Linked DNA regions of Homo sapiens: region 1 is linked to region 2. Evidence: fine-mapped expression QTL. A gene starts in region 2. The other region holds a variant in brackets. All regions are shown on one strand. Distances are from middle to middle.

Evidence for each region.
Region 1: its variant is fine-mapped to the expression of ITPKC in lymphoblastoid cells (GEUVADIS, PIP 0.90).

What each region holds. Positions count from the first base shown.
Region 1 is chr19:40,735,699-40,746,641 of GRCh38, forward strand. ITPKC (inositol-trisphosphate 3-kinase C) reads left to right here. Exons shown (of 7, transcript NM_025194.3): 5 at 1,288-1,389; 6 at 2,000-2,071; 7 at 3,659-5,162. The coding sequence ends at 3,862. It overlaps ACTMAP (actin maturation protease), which reads right to left. Exons shown (of 6, transcript NM_198476.5): 2 at 9,432-9,500; 3 at 8,861-8,985; 4 at 8,369-8,498; 5 at 8,207-8,277; 6 at 5,163-7,072. The coding sequence ends at 6,735. Among named protein-coding and RNA genes, the nearest start is that of ACTMAP, 9.3 kb to the right of the region's middle. RefSeq lists enhancers at 8,344-9,310, 9,311-10,276. The variant C/T (reference allele first, on the strand shown) is at 6,406.
Region 2 is chr19:40,712,070-40,723,012 of GRCh38, forward strand. ITPKC (inositol-trisphosphate 3-kinase C) reads left to right here and starts at 5,043. Exons shown (of 7, transcript NM_025194.3): 1 at 5,043-6,221. The coding sequence starts at 5,067. COQ8B (coenzyme Q8B) reads right to left here and starts at 4,817. Exons shown (of 15, transcript NM_024876.4): 1 at 4,518-4,817; 2 at 2,462-2,566; 3 at 2,209-2,328; 4 at 1,998-2,064. The coding sequence starts at 2,563. RefSeq lists silencers at 3,564-3,613, 4,934-5,293 and enhancers at 4,284-4,363, 6,867-7,568.

The sequences.
Region 1 (10,943 bases), 24 kb after region 2:
CCTCATCTGACTGTGTCTGTCGTGTTACTCCCTATTGCCAAGTGCCCACATAGCACCTGGCACAGTGTGGCAGATGACTTAGGTGGGTTCTCTGAGCCCTACTGAAACATAACAGATAACATTAGTCTCATTAGTCTCAAATAACTATATGCCAGGCACTGTGCTGTGCATCCTACACACCTGGTTTCCTCTAATCCTTACACCAGCCTTAGCAAGTAGACACCAACACAATTCCCGTTTTCCAGATGAGGAAACTGAGGCTGAGGCAGCTGAAATGACTTAAGACTGCCCAGCTAGAAAAGAGCAGAGATGGCCAGGTGCAGTGGCTCACGCCAGTAATCCTAGCACTTTGGGAGGCCAAGGCGGGCGGAGCATGAGGTCAGGAGATCGAGACCATCCTGGCTAACATGGTGAAACCCCGTTGCTACTAAAAATACAAAAAATTAGCCAGGCGTGGTGGCGGGAGCCTGTAGTCCCAGCTATCAGGAGGCTGAGGCAGGAGAATGGCATGAACCCAGGGGGCGGAGCTTGCAGTGAGCCCAGGTTGCACCACTGCACTCCAGCCTGGGTGACAGAGTGAGACTCTGTCAAAAAAAAAAAGAAAAGAGCAGAGTCACGATTCACAGCCAGCTCCACCCTGCTCCAAAGCCCACTTTCCTAGATGGGTTCAACCAGGAGGTTCAAGGTTGGAAGGGTGTGGAAGGACTGGGGCTCAGGCATGTGACCTGGGGCTGGGTTGAGCTGGGCTGGGCAGGTAAGCTGGCTTCCTCCTCTGGCAGCAAGTGTGCAGGCAGGTGGGTGGCCCTGGGAAGTTGTTTTTTTTGAGACAGAGTCTTGTTCTGTCACCCAGGCTCGAATGTAGTGGTGCAATCAATGCTCACTGCAACCTCTGCCTCCCGGGTTTAAGCGATTTTCCTGCCTCAGCCTCCCGAGTAGCTGGGATTACAGGCGCCCGCCACCACACTTGGCTAATTTTTTGTATTTTTAGTAGAAACGGGGTTTCACCGTGTTGGCCAGGCTGGTTGTGAACTCCTGACCTCAAGTGATCCTCCCGCCTCGGCCTCCCAAAGCACTGGGATTATAGGCATGATCCCACACCTGGGACCACAGGTGCATACTACCACACCAGAATTTTTTTTTTTTTTAAATAGAGATGGGGTCTTGCTGTGTTGCCCAGGCTGGTCTTGGCCACCGCGCCCGGCCTCCTGGGAGGTATTTGAGGTTGCTGGGTATTGGGTGCGGGAAGGAAAAGCCCATGACCCTGCCCCTCCACACCCTGCCCTACAGAAGGCAGATGGGACCTGTAACACCAACTTCAAGAAGACGCAGGCACTGGAGCAGGTGACAAAAGTGCTGGAGGACTTCGTGGATGGAGACCACGTCATCCTGGTGAGTGGGACACCCATGTCCCAGAATGTAGCAGCTTAAGACAGCCACCATTTATTCTTGCTCCAGAGTCAGTGGTCTTCTGCTTTGGGTGGGGCTGGACTGATACTGGCTGGCTTTGCTCAGTCTGAGGTCAGCTGGTGGCTTGGCAAGGCTGGCTGGTCCAGGGGGCCCTGCTCCCAGCTCTGCCGGTTGGCTCATGACTTGGCCGCACGTCTCTCGATAGCAGGATGGCCTGGGCTTGCTCTCACAGTGGAGGCAGGGGGCCAAGAGAACAAGTAAAAATGCAAGGCCTCTTGATGCCTGGGCTCAGAATGGCCACCATCATTTCTGCCGTTCGGCAAGTCATGTGACCCAGCCTGGATCGAGGGGTCTGGAGACAGACTCCGCCTCCGGATGGGAGTGGAAATTCATGGAATCCACCACTCTTCTCCATGCCACCTTGATGAATCCAAGCCCTCACTCCTCTGCCCTGTCTTCCCCATGGCTCCCCTATTCCATCCTGGCTAGAGCCTGCCTGCTCCTTTGGGGGAATGGGGTGAGGTCAGAGCTCAAGGTGGGCAAGGCCCCACAAAGTCCCCATGCTAACCAAAGAACGCTCCCTGTCACACAGCAAAAGTACGTGGCATGCCTAGAAGAACTTCGTGAAGCTCTGGAGATCTCCCCCTTCTTCAAGACCCACGAGGTGCGAGCCCTGGCTTCCATGGGTGGATGTATGGGTGTCGGGGTCCAGGTGCATGGAGGGGAAACCATTGATGAGTTACAGGTCAAAGATATAAAAAGGGGCTGGGCGTTGTGGCCCGCACCTGTAATACCAGCACTTTGGGAGGCTGAGGTGGGAGGATTGCTGGAGCCCAGGAGTGCCAAGACCAGCCTGGGAAGCACAGCAAGACCCCGTCTCTATTTGGAAAAAAAAAAAAAAAAAAAGGCCGGGTGCAGTGGCTCATGCCTGTAATCCCAGCACTTTGGGAGGCTGAGGCGGGCGGATCACTTGAGGTCGGGAGTTTGAGGCCAGCCTGGCCAACATGGCGAAACCCCGTCTCTATTAAAAATACAAAAATTGGCTGGGTGCGGTGGCTCATGCCTGTAATCCCAGCACTTTGGGAGGCCGAGGTGAGCAGATCACGAGGTCAGGAGATCGAGACCATCCTGGCTAACACAGTGAAACCCCGTCTCTACTAAAAAATACAAAAAATTAGCCGGGCGTGGTGGCGGGCGCCTGTAGTCCCAGCTACTTGGGAGGCTGAGGCAGGAGAATGGCATGAACCCGGGAGGTGGAGCTTGCAGTGAGCCGAGATTGTGCCGCTGCACTCCAGCCTGGGCAACAGAGTGAGACTCTGTCTCAACAACAACAACAACAACAACAAAATTAGCCAGAAATTGCTTGAACCCAGTAGGCAGAGGTTGCAGTGAGCTGAGATTGTGTCACTGCACTCCAGCCTGGGCAACAGAGTGAGACTCTGTCTCAAAAAAAAAGCAAAGCTAGGCATGGTGGTGCACACCTGTAGTCTCAGCTACTCAGGAGGCTGAGGCAGGAAGAGGGCTTGAGTCCAGGAGGTCAAGGCTGCAGTGCATTTTGATTATGCCTCACACTGAACATTTGCTGTGTATTTGCTATGTACCAAGCACTGTCTTAAGCACTTAATGTAGATTAATTCCTACATATAATATGCCCAGCAGCCTCTGAGGTAAATGATCCTACAGTCGACCCCTTATCCTCAGGTGATCTCCTCCAAACCCCCAGTGGATGCCGGAAACTGTGGATAGTACTGAACTATAGACTGTGTTTTCTCGATCTGATAACCAAGATGGCTCCTAGGTGACTAGTGGGTGGGTTGCGGATACAGCATAGACTTGCTGAACAAAGGGATGATTCGCATCCCAGGTGGGACGAAGCGGGATGGCACGAGATTTCATCACAGTAGTTAAACCAATGTGCAACTTAAAACTTACACATTGTTTGTTTCTGGAATTTTCCACTTAATATTTTTGGATCGCACTTGACTGAGAGTAACTAAAACCAAAGAAAATGAAACCACGGACTGGGGAGACTAACTGTATTACTCTCACTTTGTATATGAGGACGCAGAACCACAGAGAGGTTAAGACACCTGCCTAAGGCTGCACAGACAGGAGGTGGCACAGCCAGGATATGAATCAGGCAGCCAGGCTCCAGGGTTCATGCTGTCAATCACCCTGCTCTGCTGCCTGTCAGGAAGGGACCTTGGCCAGTGCCTGCTCCTCCCTTAACCTCCCGTCTCTACCCCGGCAGGTGGTAGGCAGCTCCCTCCTCTTCGTGCACGACCACACCGGCCTGGCCAAGGTCTGGATGATAGACTTCGGCAAGACGGTGGCCTTGCCCGACCACCAGACGCTCAGCCACAGGCTGCCCTGGGCTGAGGGCAACCGTGAGGACGGCTACCTCTGGGGCCTGGACAACATGATCTGCCTCCTGCAGGGGCTGGCACAGAGCTGAGCTGCTCAGCCACCATCAGGTTAATTGGATGGCGCCAGTCTGGCTGGAGGAGCCCTGAGATGCCATGGGAGGCCTGAGGTTGGCCACGGGGGAGCTGGCCTCCAGGGACGGGAGAGATTGTGTCATGTGCCACACGAGACCAACGTGGAAAAGTCTGAAGGGCCTTGGGAGACCAGGTAGCACCTGGCCCCATCATGATGCAGGGGTTTTGGGGACCTGGAAGGAAGGTGATGAGGCAGTGAGTCAGAAAAACCAGAACGGGGTCCCCGGATCTGCCGGGAAGGCTTCTGAGGGGCTGCCCTGAGAGCATTCAGTTCACATGTCACAGGGTATGGTGTGACAGGGTGCCTGTGGACACATGAATCACTTCTAACCTGCCTCCCTGTCAGCCTCCAGGCTGCCAGCTGGCTGAGGCCAGGGACTGGGTCAGGCTCATCTGTGGCGCCTCAGAGGGTCAGCATCATTGGTGAACAGATGCAGGCGCTGCTGGACCATCTGGGGAGAGTGACAGTCCATGTCTTCACCAGGGAGCCATTTGAGTGCTGAGCGACAAGAGGCTCAGAGGGCATGACCCCATGGGACTGGATGCGGCCTGAGGGCTGATACCGCTGGGCGGTATCCTGCCCTGCTGTGGCCCTGTGGGATCCTCCGTGTTCCTCGGCGGACTCTGCTGACCTCCTGCAGACCCAAACCACAGCCACATCCCAGCTTCTGTGCCAGCACTGTGACAGTACCTCGCTCCTCTGTGCACCAGATCCGGCCTCAGGACTTACACCTCCTGCCTGACCCCCAGGCTTCTCTCTCCTTTCTCCCAGCAAACTGCAGTGGCAGAAAGGAGGTTCAGAGGCTGGGAAAGTGGGCCTCCCCTTGCAACTCAGAGCTGCTGCACTCAGGAGGGCCCCATCCAATCCCGGGCCCCTGCAGGGAAAAGCGCTGGGTGTGTGTCAGAGGCGCAGGGTGGGTGGGGCTGCCAGCCAGGACCCTGGCCTGCAGCCTGATCCAAACCAAAGACTGTAGAACCCTGGGGTGTGGCTAACGGCCCCTCCAGCACCCATAGCCAGGTCTTCCTGGCCCTTGAGGCTGGGCTGGCGGACAGGCACCTACCTCTTCCTTAAGCTGAAGCTCCCACACTGTCTTCCAGGGCTGAGGAGATGCTCTCCTTTTCTACTGACCATCTTGATACTTATTTATACGAGAGGCAGTTGCTGGACGGGGTAGTACTGGGAAGCAGGAGGCAGAATGGCTCTGCTGAGCCTCCTACCCATGACAACACCCCAATAAACAGAACATTCAGAGCCAATGTCGTAGAGCTTTTTATTTTGCATCTGGAGTGTATTTGGACACGTGGGCTGGGTGGGGTAACAGGATAATGAGCAGTTTGGGAAAGAGGCAGGCTCCAAGCAGGCTGGTTCACTCACTTGGCAGTCACTGGGCGGCTATTCTTGTGCCTGGATGTGTTACAATGCAGGGGACACAGTGGTGAGCAAGGCTGCTCCAAGCCCTGGCTGGGATGGGGGATGCACAGACAGGCTGATCAGGGCTGGGATGGTGGACACGCATCCTCTTTACCCTGATCACTGGTTAGAAATACTGCACTGTGGCCGGGCTCAGTGGCTCACACCTGTAATCCCAGCACTTTGGGAGGCCGAGGCGGGTGGATTACTCAAGGTCAGGAGTTCGAGACCAGCCTGGCCAACATGGCAAAGCCCCGTCTCTACTAAAAATACAAAAAATTAGCCAGGCATGGTGGTGCATGCCTGTAATCCCAGTTACTTGGGGGGCTGAGGCAGGAGAATCACTTGAACCTGGGAAGTGGAGGCTGGAGTGAGCTGAGATCACGCCACCGCACTCCAGCCTGGACGACAGAACGAGACTCCATCTAAAAAAAAAAAAAGCAACAGTGCTCTGTAGTTTCCCTAAATGAGATGGGCTCAGTTAGGGACAGAGAAGTGATCCAGACAGGCCTGTTCCTCCTTCAGAGTGGAGGGGTCAGGTATTCATGAAGCTAGTAATCACACACACTCACTAGAAGTTTGTATAAGTGGACAGGAAAGTTTGTGGTCAGCACCATAATGTTCAGGGAGCCAGGAGACAGCCTGGCTGAGATACTGACTACCTAGCTTGAATCCTGACCTTGCCATGTGCTAGTCATGTGACCTCAGGCCAGTGATTCCACTTCTCCAGGCCTCAGTCTTGCCATCTGTCAAATCGGGTCCATCTAGCACCCCCCTTACAGGGTTGCCAGATCTGCTAACACAGGTAGAGGGGCTGGCACAGGTAACTGCTCCCAGATGGGCTTTAAAACTGTGAAGACATGAGGTGGGGGAGGGGTGTCTTGACTGGGGCTGCAGGACTCTTCCCTGAGGTAGTGATACCTGAGCCCCAATGGAAAAGTTAAGGAGTGATCCGCAGCAGAGGGCTGGGGGTGGGACTCAATGATCCGGGGATTTGAACAACACTTCAGGGATCTAAAAGGCCAGTATGACTAGTAGGTGGCAAGCATGAGGAAGACCTTGGGCTAAGGAGGGGTGAGCTGAGGCTGA[C/T]GCAGTTCAGTGTCCCTGTCCTGTGAGAAGCAGAGGGCCCAGGCAGGAGGTTCCTCAAATGTCTAGTGAGATGACAGAGGCGGCCCCTAGTGAGAAACAGACGATGCGACATTCAGATGGAATAGGCAGGCCGCAGGGTCCGGGCTGTTGTCAATCTCTCCCTAGAGGGACCAGCTGGTGCTCAATACTGCAGGGGGTGGCCCTGATGAAGGAGGACTGGAGACCCCTGAGACCTAGCTTCAATCTTGTCGCCATCACACAGTGGGAGAAGTGTAGGCACACTTCAAATGGTTACCGAGCTAGGCTGCAGCCTGAGACCGCAGCCGCAGCTAATGGCTGCAGTCCTGTGGTGTGAGGAGCAGGGCCTGGCCACAGAGGCCAGCCCGTACCCCACCCACGGGCACCACGTACACCCGGCCGTCAGTGGCCCGTGAGGGCGAGAAGTCCGTCAGCTGCAGGTTGCTCTCCCGGACCTGGTCGTAGTCCCACAGCTGATAGTGCCAACTCTTGCCCTGCTTGGACAGCAGGTAGACAGCTCCCGGGGAGCCCTCCTCTGGCAGGGATGGTGGTTGGCAGGGCGTGCCCAGCACTGGGTGGAACAGGCCCGGCAGCTCAGGGTCCTCAGTGTAGCCGAGACTGGGCACAGCCCGAACACCCAGCAGGACCCCTGGGGGAGAGGAGAAGGTGGTGAGTGGCAGTGACTGAGCCAGGACCAGGTGCTGGGGCTCACTAAGTTCCGCCCTCTCCCGGCCCTCCAGGGTGGGTGCAGCTGCCATTCCTAGGTTACGGTGACGTTAGTGGTGGCCAGTGGGTTGGGATTTGGACCCACCGTGGCACCCGGCTCCAAAGCTGTAGGTGTTTTAAGTCTTGCCTCATCTGGCCTGAGCACAGGGGAGGTGGGGAGGCAGCATGAGATGAAGCAAATGCCGTCACCCGGTCATCCTCAGCTCTTTAGGGAAGAGGCTCCAAGAGGAGCTGTCAAGACCACAAAGCCATGAAGAAGCTGAGCGGAGCCTCCCCCGGACCTCCTGACGCGGACCAACCTGGCCTTCTTTCTTTCAGGCAGGGGGAATGATGAAAACGGTGCTGGTAATACTTACAGAGACATGTCACACGCCAAGCCCTGTTCTATTTTTTTTTTTTTTTTGAGATGGAGTCTTGCTCTGTCACCCAGGTTGGAGTGCAGTGGCACGATCTCAGCTCACTGCAACCTCCGCCTCCCAGGTCCAAGCAATTTTCCTGCTTCAGCCTCCCAAGTAGCTAGGATTTCAGGCATACACCACCACGCCTGGCTAATTTTTGTATTTTTAGTAGAGACAGGGTATCACCATGTTGGCCAGGCTGGTCTCAAACTCCTGACCTCAAGCGATCCACCCACCTTGGCCTCCCGAAGTGCTGGGATTACAGGCGTGAGCCACCGCGCCTGGCCAAGCCTTGTTCTAAGAGTGCTGAGTGCTCTGCCTACAAGGCAGCCTTATGAGGTGGGTACTGTTACCCCCAATTTCCAGATGGGGAAAGGAGCTGTCCAGAGAGGTGATGATACCTGCCCAGAGTCACAGAGCCTAGAAGAGGCTGTGCCAGGCCTGGAGCCCAGACGGTCTGATCCTGAAATCTGTGCTCTGAGCTTCTGTTTGTAGAAGCTCCAACTGGCAGACACCTGGGGCCCAGCCTGCCCGGTGCTAATGCTAAGTGCCCAGCCTGGCTGGGGAGGCACCAGCACAAGGGGTGAGAATGTCAGGAGGATTAATGGAGGCCGGGGAGACCCAGGTTGAGGGGTGCAGACAAAGGAGGGGGAACCCACCTGCACTCACCGCCCAGTGTGCCTTGTGGCCCTTCCTCTGACACGGCTCATGGTTGAAGTCCTCGTCGTAGCTGGTGCTGGCATTAAGGTAAAAACGATGGTGTGGCCCTGGGACCCACCCTTTGCCACCCCTGCCCTCCTCTCTCCCAGGCCCTGGGATACGGGATGAGCAGGGGATGTCCAGTGACCAGGTGCTGCAGGACGAGGTCTCTGTTGGGACCGCCCAGGCCACCAGAGAGCAGCTTGGCCTGGCAGCCCAGCACCTCCTGGGCCAGCCTGCCCATATCGGCCACTGCAGGGTGAGAGCACACAGAGGGGGCTTGCTGCATGTGCCCAGCACCGTGCTGAGGGCTCACAGTGGGCGATGCTTCCAACCCTCACCATGACCTTCCACCCCTTGGTACAAATGCAGAAAATGAGGCACAAAGAGCGTGAGTGGCTTGTCCATGGCCCCAGCGAAGAGGTGGCAGAGCTGGGTTTGCAACCTAGGCAGCCAGCTCAAGTCCATCTTGTAACCTCTCTGCTCTACTGGGCAGTGGGAAGGGCCCAAAGAATGGAATGAGACACCCTGACACACGGCTGCCAGCATCCCACCCAGCCTCTCTGGTCCCAGCCTCATGAAGAGATGATGGAGCATGCAGTCACCCAGCTCACCTGAGAACATCTCTCCCTGGGCCGTGTAGCCTCTTTCCGTGGCCACCCGTATGAGTCTCTCCAGGGGGACGCCACTGGGGGGCGACAGGAGAGTACCTGCCATCCACAAGGCCACCAGCCCGCATCTGGGGACAGAGAGGCCCAGCCTGTCAATCCTATGTCACAGCCCCCTTACCTGGAAGCTGGAGTTGGGGAACAGGTTTGCTGCCCTGGAGGAGTCCCCCTCCCCTCTCCCAGGCCAGCGAGGGAGACCTGACTCCCCTTCAGGGGAGAGCCCAGGGCTGGAGGGCTGGGGGTGGAAGGCGGGGGAGAGGTCACCTGAGCTTCCTGGGAGGAGGAACCAAGGTGGAGTTAGAGAGATGGACCAGGCTCATTCGTTCATTCCTCGCATGTCCCAACTATGTTTACTATGCAGGCACTCAGAAGCCTGAGTGGAAAGTTCCCCCTTTCCTTCCCTCCTCCTCCCAGCAGGGACAATCCACTCCTCTTCTCCAGATCAGTCCTTAAGAAGCCCAGCAAGGGCAGAGTAAAGGCAGCAGATGGGCTGGGGTTCCCGCATCAGGGCACATACTGAGGGCCTTCTTGGATGAGGGACGGCAGGTCTGCACAGAAGAGGATCCACCGCAGGTCACCTCGGAACCTGAAGCAGAGCCGTGCTCAGTCACCAGGGAGCCAGCTCTGAAGCACCCCCTACCCTGAGGTCTGGCTGGGAGTGGTCGTATCCAGGGATGATGAAGGGAATATGGGCCTGGCTGTCCTAAGGCTGAAGGCGGCTCCTGGTTCAGTCACTGACTTCCCCTCCCCAAGCTTCAGTTTCCTCATCTGGTTTGTGGGAATGGTCCTTCTGCCTGCCTGCTCCCTGCTCGCTCTCTCAGTTATTGAAGGGTGAGGAGCAAAGGGTGGCACTTTGCAACCAGGTTTATCTGAGGAAATTTCTCAAAGTGGTATCTCTATCTCCAACTCTTTTTCTTGCTCTGTTGCCCAGGATGGAATGCAATGATGCAATCAAAGCTCACTGCAGCCTCGACCTCCCAGGGTCAAGTTATTCCTCCTGCCTCGGCTTCCTGAGTAGCTGGGAGTATAGGCATGCACCACCATGTCCAGCTAGTTCTTTTTATTTTATTTTATTTTGAGACAGAGTTTTGCTCGTTTTGCCCATACTGGAGTGCAACAGCGCGATCTCAGCTCACTGCAACCCCTACCTCCCGGGTTCAAGTGGGTCTCCTGCCTCAGCCTCCCGAGTAGCTGGGATTACAGGCATGCGCCACCACGCCCAGCTAATTTTGTATTTTTAGTAGAAACGGGGTTTCACCATGTTGGCCAGGCTGGTCTCGAATTCCTGACCTCAGGTTATCCACCCACCTTGGCCTCCCAAAGTGCTGGGGATTATAGGCGTGAGCCACCGTGCCCGACTCTTTTTATTTTTAGTAGAGATGAGATCATGCTATATGTTGCCCAGGCTCCAAACTCTGTGATTTGTTTTTCGCTTCAAGTCTGTTTCCTGGGCTGTTCAACAATGAAAATCCCTTAACTGAACTTTGAATAAAACCAGGTAACAACATGCTTAAGGCCTAAAACATCACCTTGATAGTGAATCTTTGTACCCTGGGGGAGGCCACTCAGATAGTCTGGCCCTGAGGGATTCATTCCTTTTTGTTTGTTTGTTTGTTTGTTTTTTGGGACAGAGTTTCCCTCTTGTTGCTCCGGCTGGAGTGCAATGGTGCGATCTTGGCTCACCACAACCTCCGCCTCCTGGGTTCAAGCGATTCTCCTGCCTCAGCCTCCTGAGTAGCTGGGATTATAGGCATGCGCCACCATGCCTGGCTAAGTTTTTGTTTTTGTTTTTGTTTTTTTTTGAGACAGCTGGAGTGCAGTGGCCCGATCTTGGCTCACTGCAAGCTCTGCCTCCCGGGTTCACGCCATTCTCCTGCCTCAGCCTCCCGAATAGCTGGGACTGCAGGCTCCCGCCACCACACCTGGCTAATTTTTTGTATTTTTAGTAGCAACAGGGTTTCACCCTGTTAGCCAGGATGGTCTCGATCTCCTGACTTCGTGATTTGCCCGCCTCAGCCTACCAAAGTGC
Region 2 (10,943 bases):
TGGAGTGCAATGGTGCGATCTTGGTTCACTGCAATCTCTACCTCCTGGGTACAAGCAAGTGAATCTATATTTTTAAAACTTGAACCAGGCGGGGCATGGTAGCTCACGCCTATAATCCCAGCACTTTGGGAGGCTGAGGCAGGTGGATCACGAGGTGAGGAGTTCGAGATCAGCTTGACCAACATGGTGAAACCCCATCTCTACTAAAAATACAGAAATTAGCGGTCAGGCACAGTGGCTCACGTCTGTAATCCTGGCACTTTAGGAGGCCAAGGCAGGCGGATCATGAGGTCAGGAGATCGAGACCATCCTGGCCAACATGGTGAAACCCTGTCTCCCTAAGAAAAAAAAAAAAAAAAACAACAAAAAATAGTTGGACGTGGTGGCGTGCATCTGTAACCCCCGCTACTCAGGAGGCTGAGGCAGGAGAATTGCTTGAACCTGGGAGGTGGAGGTTGCAGTGAGCTGAGATCATGCCACTGCACTCCAGTCTGGGTGACAGAGCAAGACTCCATCTCAAAAACAAAAACAAAAACAAAACTTGAACCATGATCAGCAATAAGAAGACATTTACGTTATAACCAGTGCAGACCAAGGTATATGTTTCACGAAACAAGACTTTCCCTTGCTCTACAGGTGCATGCATATTTTCTGTCCTATTCTTCTTTTTAAATGCTGGTTGCAACCCACTAAATTATTTCATGTGACTTGCACGACATCCGGCTGTGTAACCCAAAGTCAAGTGACCTCCCCTTTGTTAGCCTCAATGTCCTCATGTACGGAATAGAACACTCATTGATTCAGTGCAGCATGTGTGTATATGGGACACTGCACATTACAGGTTCTCAGTAAATGTTATTATGGCCAGGAGCAGTGGCTCATGCCTAGAACCCCAGCACTTCGGGAGGCCGAGGCAGGAGGATCGCTTGAGACCAACTTGAGCAACATAGGGAGACCCTATCTCTACAAAAAAATATTTTTTAAATTACCCAGGCCAGGCACAGTGGCTTCCCGGGCACCGTGGCTCACATCTGTAAATCCCAACACTTTGGGAGGCCGAAGTGGGTGGATCACTTGAGGTCAGGAGTTCAAGACCAGCCTGGCCAACATGGTGAAATTCTGTCTCTACTAAAAGTACAAAAATTAGCCAGGCGGCCAGGTGTGGTGGCTCACGCCTGTAATCCCAGCACTTGGGAAGGCTGAGGCAGGCGGATCACAAAGCGAGGACATAGCAGAGTCATCCCTTGAACCCTGGGCAGCCTGGTGCCAAAGCTCTACCACTGCCTGACAAACATGGTGAAACCCCGTCTCTACTAAAAATACAAAAATTAGCCGGGTGTGGTGGATGCATGCCTGTAATCCCAGCTACTTGGGAGTGTGAGGCAGGAGAATCGGCTTGAACCCGGGAGGTGGAGGTTGCAGTGAGCCAAGATGGCGCCACTGCACTCCAGCCTGGGTGACAGAGGGATACTCCGTCTCAAAAAAAAAAAAAAAAAAATAGCCAGGCATAGTGGCAGGCACCTGTAATCCCAGCTACTCAGGAGGCTGTGGCAGGAGAATTGCTTGAATGTAGGAGGCAGAGGTTGCAATGAGCCAAGACGGTGCCACTGCACTCCAGCCTGGGCAACAGAGCGAGACTCTGTCTCAAAGGAAAAAAAAAAAAAAATTACCCGGGCGGATGGTGCACAACTGTGGTCCCAGCTACTCAGGAGGCTGAGGCGAGAGAATTGCTTGAGCCCAGAAGTTTGAGGCTGCAGTGATCGCGCCACTGCACTCCAGCCTGGGTGACAAAGTGAGACTCTGTCTCAAAAAAAAAAAAAAAAATTATCATTTATGTTCCTCTTGATTTCTCTTGGCCTTGCAGGCCCTTGCCTTTGTCTCTCTTTTTTTGTCTCTCTCTCTTTCCTGTCTCTGATTCATCCTCTCCCTTGCTTCAATCTGTAAATGTTGCCCTTTCTAATTGAGGTCACACCAAGATCCCCCAAAGTCACACCTACCCCCAAAGTTGGCCAAGCGGCTGATGCGGGAGGCAGGCACCTTGCGTTCTCGAGAGCGGTCACTCAGCTGGGAAATGGGGACAAGGTCTGAGGGTGGGAAAGTGGGCATCGTGGCCAGAGAGTGCAGCCACTCTGCCACCACACCCTTCCCCAAGCTCAGGGGGCCAGCAGTATTCGTGGGGTGTTGCTGGGTGGGTGGGGGTAATGATACCTGGGGCCGGGGTGTCTTCCTGGGACGGGCCTCCCGTGCCCTGCGAATGTCCTCCTCACCCAGGCCTCTCCCAGGCCCATCCTGGTAAAACTTTTGGGCCCAAGAACCTCCACATGGTCCCTGCAAGAGATATACTTTGATAAGGAGGGGAGGACATGGGATCACCTGGCCCTTCTGGACCCCTCCTGTCCTTTTACCCTCTGAAGTCTCCCTCAGCCTCTTCCCCTTGGGGACCTGCTCCCTAGCCTCTTACCCAGCGGTGGGGCCCAGGCCCCAGGGCCCCACAAGGCCAACCAACAGTCTGGCCCAGCTGTCCACCGGTCCCCCGAAGTAGGCCCCCCACCTTCAGCCACATTGCCTGGAGGAGAAGAGGAGGGATTATTCAGGTGGGAGTTGCCTGGCTTCTTGGCCAGGCCCCCATGTTCCTCTGTGTCCACCCTCTCTCATTCCCACCCACTAAATACTTCCTCCACTATTAATAGATTCCCACAGTTTCTCCTGGTTCTCCCCTGGTTGCTAGGAACCCTTAGCTCTTCCTGCAGGCCTCCCAAAACCCACTTTCCCCCCTCTCCCAACCCTCGCCGTTGCTAGGGTCCGCCCCCGTTACTAGACACCCACAGTTCCTCAGGGGCTACCTCTCCACTTCTCTGAAACCCCCCTCGTTGCTATGCACCGCCTTCCCCTCTGTTGGCCCTGTAGGCACCCGCAATTCCTCCGGTGTCCCCCCGCCCGATCCCCACCCCGTTACTGAGCACCTCCCCCCGTTGCTAAGCACCCACTGCTCTCAGCCTCCGAGTCCGCAACCTGCTGGGGCCCTCCTGTGCTTCCGGGAGCCTCTGTATGCCCGCCCCCTTCGGCCAGCCAACCAATGGCGCGGCAGCAACTCGCTGACTGGCACGGAGTTTCTCCATCTGTGCGCGGGGGAAGGGGCCAGAGAGAGGCCCTAGCGATGGAGCCTGGAATTAAGGTGGGCATCGGGGGCCCATCTGGGGGGATTGCTGAGGCATCGCGGGAGCGCAAGCGTGCCCTGTCTGCCCTTCCACTCACCTCAAAGTGCCTTGTACGCGACAGACCCTTCTGTTCCCTACACTTTCTTGCAAAGTCTCCCTTACAAACCTGACGCCTCTCTTCTGCACGAATATCTTGCCAACCCCCCTTCTTATTTTTACCCCTGGCAGGCTCAACACAATTCCTTTGAATACACATTCTTCCCAGCAAACATTTCCCTTGCACATGGAGCCCCTCCACTTTGCACAAACACCCACATTCTGGCACCCAACCTCCTTCCTTGTGCATATAAATCCCTTGCCTTGCTTGCCAACTGTTTCCCGCTCACGCCTTCAACTCTCTCGTGTACATACCCTCCCCCCCACTTGCACACTGAGTCTCTGTTCCCTCACACACCCTGTTCTCTCCGCTCCCCGCCCACCTGCGGAATGGTGCGACTGGGAGCCCTCTGCTTCCTGTAGGCCTGACATTTCCCAGAACACACTCAGCCAAGATTCCCAGTGCTGAGTCAGGAACCTTGGCATCCCAGAAAACCACCTCCCATCCTATCTTTCTTTCTCTGTGTGTGTGTGTGTGTGTGTGTGTGCGCGCGCGCGTTGGAAAGCCTGCTCTCCCCACAACAGGCTGACTCACCCACTTCTCACAGTCTGGAATAGAGGCATCTGGTTGGGGCATCTTTCCCACCACTGGGAGAGGGAGGGATGCCGATGCTTCCCCCACAGAACCCCGCTGCCCCAACCCCTCTTGTCGGGAATCAGGCCTCTTTGTCTCTATTCCCGTACTGTGTGACCTCAGAAAAGCCCTCATCCCTCTCTGGACTTCTCCTTCCCAACCTGTATGAGGTACTAGGTGGGCTCCTGCCTTCGATTTCTCTCATTGGTCTGTGAAAAGGTGACTCATTTTAGAGCCTTGGACCTGTGCCCAATGTCTCCCCCAGTTGACTCAATTTCAAGACAAACCACCTCCTCTCCCCCTTCAGAGGTGAACGGCTGACTCAGGAGCTGGGTGGCAGCTCAGCCTTGGGGGCAAAATATATCAAAATCACCTAGGACAATAAATAATCCTACTGGGCTACAACTGACAGTGCCAGGCCCGGGGCCACATGCTTCACATACATGAGATCATGTCAGATAGCCCCGTAGCTGCAAGCAAAGGGTAGAGGCCGGCAGATCTCTGAGCCTCTGTTCTCACGTGTAAAATGGAGCCCTGGCATCCCTATTGTTCAGCCTTGGAGAATGAACTGAAATCGTGTCAGGGTCTGATACAGAACAAGTACTCTATACATGACAGAGATTTCTTACGGAAAATCCAATGGAGCGTAAGTCATTTGCTCAGGGTAGCGGAGCTGGGAACTGGCAGAGGAAGGTCTCGAACCCACACCCGTGGGAACTCCAAGTCTTTGAAAGTCCGTCCCGCCCCTGCGTGAAGAATGGGCGCGCGGCTGGACTCGTCACCGGGGGTTTTAGGGAAGGTTGAACTTGTCATTCAACCGTGTAGGGAGGGTGGTTTAGTCACAGGGGTGGAGGGAGGGGGCCCACTGGCGCGCCACCAGGACCCCGGTGCCCTAGATGCATACCTGGCCGCGCTTCGGATGCTCAGAGGCAAACCCCCTCCCCTTGGGAGGCGGAGTCGGACAAGGCTCCGTCTCGTTCCGTTCCGTCACGTCCGGTGGGGCGGGGCTTCGGGGCTTTCCCCTTTGAGGGGAGTATCGGTTAACCCTTGCGCGGCGGGGCGGGCTGGAGCTCCGCGGGCCGGAACCCGGGAGTCGGGGCTCCCCAGCCACACCCCTCGCGGGATTTAAAGGGATAGGAGGGGCCGGGTCGGCCGAAGCCCGAACCGAAGGAGCGGGCATGAGGCGCTGCCCGTGCCGTGGGAGCCTGAACGAGGCGGAGGCCGGGGCGCTGCCCGCGGCGGCCCGCATGGGACTGGAGGCGCCGCGAGGAGGGCGGCGGCGGCAGCCGGGACAGCAGCGACCTGGGCCCGGCGCAGGGGCCCCGGCGGGGCGGCCGGAGGGGGGCGGGCCCTGGGCCCGGACAGAGGGGTCCAGCCTCCACAGCGAGCCTGAGAGGGCCGGCCTCGGGCCTGCGCCGGGGACAGAGAGTCCGCAGGCAGAATTCTGGACAGACGGACAGACTGAGCCCGCGGCAGCTGGCCTTGGAGTAGAGACCGAGAGGCCCAAGCAAAAGACGGAGCCAGACAGGTCCAGCCTCCGGACGCATCTAGAATGGAGCTGGTCAGAGCTGGAGACGACTTGTCTTTGGACGGAGACCGGGACAGATGGCCTTTGGACTGATCCGCACAGGTCCGACCTCCAGTTTCAGCCCGAGGAGGCCAGCCCCTGGACACAGCCAGGGGTTCATGGGCCCTGGACAGAGCTGGAAACGCATGGGTCACAGACTCAGCCAGAGAGGGTCAAGTCCTGGGCTGATAACCTCTGGACCCACCAGAACAGTTCCAGCCTCCAGACTCACCCAGAAGGAGCCTGTCCCTCAAAAGAGCCAAGTGCTGATGGCTCCTGGAAAGAATTGTATACTGATGGCTCCAGGACACAACAGGATATTGAAGGTCCCTGGACAGAGCCATATACTGATGGCTCCCAGAAAAAACAGGATACTGAAGCAGCCAGGAAACAGCCTGGCACTGGTGGTTTCCAAATACAACAGGATACTGATGGCTCCTGGACACAACCTAGCACTGACGGTTCCCAGACAGCACCTGGGACAGACTGCCTCTTGGGAGAGCCTGAGGATGGCCCATTAGAGGAACCAGAGCCTGGAGAATTGCTGACTCACCTGTACTCTCACCTGAAGTGTAGCCCCCTGTGCCCTGTGCCCCGCCTCATCATTACCCCTGAGACCCCTGAGCCTGAGGCCCAGCCAGTGGGACCCCCCTCCCGGGTTGAGGGGGGCAGCGGCGGCTTCTCCTCTGCCTCTTCTTTCGACGAGTCTGAGGATGACGTGGTGGCCGGGGGCGGAGGTGCCAGCGATCCCGAGGACAGGTCTGGGGTGAGTGGGACCCATCCTGCCCTTGAGCCACATCACGCAAAACTCCTTATTCCTCCGCCTTTGCTTAGGAAGTTCTCTACCCATTTACTGTTAGTTGCCCACCAGCAATTTCATCTCCGGGAACCTCTTCCATCCACTGACCTCCTCCCTCTGACAGCCAGGTTACTAATTCACTCCAGGCACCCCTTCTTAATTCTCTCCTTTCCCCTTCCTGCACTGTCTCCACTCCTGGGGGTCTACAATGGAGGGCCACTGACCGACTTTATGGGGCCCAGGAACCCCTGAAATTGTAGGACTAAGGAGCCTGCCGTGCGTGTTCACATACATTGTTGCAGCGACGGTCTGACATCTGTCTAATCCTCTGGAATCTGAAGAACACTGGGATAGGGAGACAGGCAGGGTGCACTTTCTACCCCACATTTCTTAATCTGGGGCCTGTGGCTGTCTTAAAGGGTCACAAACCTTCACCACCCCTTAGCCTATTTGTATGTACATTTTTCTAGGGAGCAAAGCGATTCCCCCAGCTTGCATCAGATTCGCAAAAGGGCTGTGTGACCCCAAACGCCAAAGGATCCTTGGCCTAGCCGGGAGCCCACCTGGTCTCCCCTGTGACCCCTACATCCCCAAGGAGCCCCCTGAACACTCTTGTTTACTTTGTCCACCGTCACCCCCAGCTTGGGTGTGGCTCTCCCCTGGTGAATCAGGAGGACCGGCCGGGCAGGTTCAGGGAGGGCGGGACAGAGCAGAGGCCGGTGTGAAACTGGAGAGCCTCACGTGGGGCTGGGAGCCGTGGGGCTGGGAGCCGAGTCCGGAGTCCATCAGCTTGCCAGCTTGCCTGCTGAGGCCTCTTTTTGCTCTGGGGCCCCTGGCTGGAGTCTGCCCTGAGCCCCGCTTCACCCCACATGCCTTCCTTGGGGACGTGTTCACACATGTGGCCCTAGCTGTGAGAGACAGACCTGCCTTGACGTGCCTGTGCCTGTGTGCAGGGGCTGACCCTCCTGGGCCCCATTGCTTTTTTCTCTCTGCCTGCCCTCTCACTTCCTTGGCATCTCAGAACAGCTGAGCTGGAAGTGGGTGAATAATAATAATAATAATAATAATAATAACAACAACAATTAGCACTCACTCATGTTTAGCCCTGTGCTAAGTGCTGTGCTTTTATTAACTCACTCACTCCTCGCAGCAACCCTAATGAGGTAGATACTTTTTTTTTTTTTCTGAGACAGTCTCGCTCTGTTGCCCAGGCTGGAGTGCAGTGGTGCCATCTCGGCTCACTGCAGCCTTCACTTCCTGGGTTCAAGTGATTGTCCTGCCTCAGCCTCCTGAGTAGGTGAGACACCAGGTGCCCGCCACCACACCTGGCTCATTTCTGTATTTTGAGTAGAGACAGGGTTTCATCATGTTGGCCAGGCTGACCTCAAGACTCCTGACCTCAAGTGATCCACCCGCCTCAGCCTCCCGAAGTGCTGGAATTACCAGCATGAGCCACTGCACCCGGCTGAGGTAGATACTATTATTATCCCCTTTTACAGATGAGGAAACTGAGGCACAGAGAATTCAAGTCACTTGTCCAAGGATATCACCTTGCAAGATGCAGATCAAATAATTCTAATCCTTACTGTACACCAGACACTGTTTTAAGTTTTTTCTTCTTTTTTTTTTTTAGTCTTTTTTGTCAATTTTTTTCTGTCATTTTTTATCTTAAAATAGCATCTATCTTAATTAAGGGCTTTGTATGTGTTAACTCTGAGTCCTTATGACAGCACTGAGATTGTCTCCATTCAACAGATGGGGGCCAGGCTCAGTGGCCCAAGCCTGTAATCCCAGCACTTTGGGAGGCCGAGGCAGGGGGATCACCTAAGGTCAGGAGTTCAAGACCAGCCTGGCCAACATGATGAAACCCTGTCTCTACTAAAATACAAAAATTAGCCAGGCGTGTGATGGCGGGCACCTGTAATCCCAGCTACTTGGGAGGCTGAGGCAGGAGAATCGCTTGAATGTGGGAGGCGGAGGTTGCAGTGAGCCGAGATTGCACCACTGCACTCCAGCCTGGGTGACAGAGCAAGACTCGGTCTCAAAAAAAAAAAAACAAAAACAACAGATGGGGAAGCTGAGGCATAGAGAGGTGAGAGATTCTTTGCTTAGGGTTGGCCACGTCAAGTCAGAGCCAGGATTCTAACTCAGTTCTGGCTGAGTTTCAAACCCATCGTTTAAACCCTCCAGTGTGTAGATCTGTTCCTAACTTGTCTCCCTCCCAGGCCTCCCTATCTCCAGTTTTTTTCTCATCCTTCCAGAATCTGCCTCCATGGCCCAGCTTTGTCTGCTCAGGTGCCCTCTCTGAGAGCAGTCAGGGGCTCAGTGCTGCGTTTGGAGCCTCCGGTCTCCAGGCGCCTTCCCAGAATCGACTTCCTTCCCTCCTCCTGACCCCCTCTGCTGTAACTAGGCCTGAGTACACACTGTTCCTTGAACACTCTTCTGTTGTCCTGCCTCCACGCATTGCTCAAGCCGTTCCCACTGCCCAGCATACCCGTGCTTCCTTCTCCCTTAATTTTGAAATCCTCTCTGACCGTAAAGGCTCAGCTTCCTTTCTCCCTTTCCTCCTTCCTTCCTTCTCACCATCCTGTCCTTTTTTTAAAATTGTGTTCTCTTTCTTTTTCTTTTTTTGGTAGGGATGGGGTCTTGCTATCTTGCCCAGGCTGGTCTTGAACTCCTGGGCTCAAGTGATCCTCCTGCCTCAGCCTCCCAAAGTGCTGGGATTACAGGTGTGCTATCCTATTCTTCTAATGAGACAAAAATCACTCCCTAAGCCCCTACCATGTATTTGGTCCTATGTTAGCTTTGCTGGGGAAACAGCAGTGACCAAGACACTCATGGAGCTCCCAGGCCCATGAAAGAGACAGACCAATCAGCCGACAGTCACAGTTCAGAGTGGTCAGGAGGATGTGTGAGCCCAGAAGGAGGTCACTGGCCAGACACAGGGTATCAGAGAGGGCTTCCTGGAGGAAGGGGCATATAAGCTGAGACCATTGTGAAAAAAATCCGAGAAAGCCCAGATAAACCATTGGATCTAACTTTTTTTTTTTTTTTGGAGGGCGTGCAGTGCGGAGTTTCACTCTGTTGCCTAGGCTGAAGTGCAGTGGCGAGATCTCAGTTCACTGCAACCTCAGCCTCCCGGGTTCAAGTGATTCTCCTGCCTCGGCCTCCCAAGTAGCTGGGACTACAAGCGCACGCCACCACGCCCGGCTAATTTTTTTTTTTAGTAGAGAGTGGGTTTCACTATGTTGGCCAGGCTGGTTCTGAGCTCCTGACCTCAGGTGATCCACCCACCTCAGCCTCCCAAAGTGCTGGGATTACAAGCATGAGCCACTGTGCCCGGCCCGGATCTAACATAAAACAGAGAGAGAAGATATTATGTTTATGATTAAGGGGCCAGGTGTGGTGGCTTATGCCTATAATCCCAGCACTTTGGGAGGCTGAGGTGGGAGGATTGCCTGAGCCCAGAAATTTGAGACCACCCTGGGCAACACAGTGAGACCTCATCTCTACTAAAAGGAAAAAAGAACTAGCTAGATGTGGTGGTATATGCCTGTTTTCCAGCTATTCGGGAGGCTAAAGCAGGAGGATTGCTTGAGCCTGGGAGGCAGAGGTTGCAGTGAGCCAAGATCACACCTCTGCACTCCAGCCTGGGCAACAGAGTGAGATCCTGTCTCAAAAAAAAAAAAAATTACTATTAAAAAAATCCCAACTAACATTCTTCAGTCCAAGCATCAAAGAATGTTTCTGGAGCGTCTGTCGTGTGCCAGGCCATGTGCTGGGGACATAATCATAACCATGACAACCCCAGTCTCTGCCATCATGAGCTTGTAGTCCAGCAAGTGTGTAGGGGATAAGCCCCAAGGCACTGGGATCCAACCAGAGCTAGAACCCCAGCGCTGTGTGGGGTGATGTTAGGTAAGTGGCTTCACCTCTCAGACCCTCTGTTTCCTCCTTTGTAACACCGAGACGATAATCTCCCTGGGGTTGTGTTTTTAGAAATTAAGTAGGTTGTGGCACACTGAGTCTTTGTCATTGTGTCTGGAATGTTCCAGGTACTTAGTAAACAGGAACCTTTATTAATCATCTCTTCCCCAGGGCCGGCAGCTGGATTGGGGAGGGACTAGCCCTTCCCGAACCCTGACTCCCTCTTAACCTTCCCACTGTCAAAGAGATGTCTGTGAGGTAGCTGGGCTCTGAGGGGGCGGGAGAGATGAACACGTCCCTGATCCTGGGGTAGGAGAGGGATGAGCCATACAGTTTCCTTCTCTGGAGGTGACCCACTCTTCCAGTACTTGCTAAGGGACTTGACATGCTTGTGGGGTGCAGAATGTATTCCTGTGTGTGTATGTGTTCATGAATCAGACACTAACCCTGTCTCAAAAAGCTCATAGTTTAGTCGGCATGATACAACGAAAACCCTGTTTTCTATTTGCTTCTCTGGTTTTCTTTCTTTCTTTCTTATTTTTTTGAGTCAGGGTCTCACTGGGTCACCCAGTCTGGAGTGCAGTGGCACAATCACTGCTCACTGCAGCCTCACCCTCCAGGGCTCAAGTGATCCTCCCACCTTAGCCTCCTGAGTAGCTGGGACTACAGGTGCACACCACCACGCCTAGCTGATTCTTAATTTTTTATTTATTTATTTATTTATTTTTTGAGATGGAGTCTCGCTTTCTCGCCCAGGCTGGA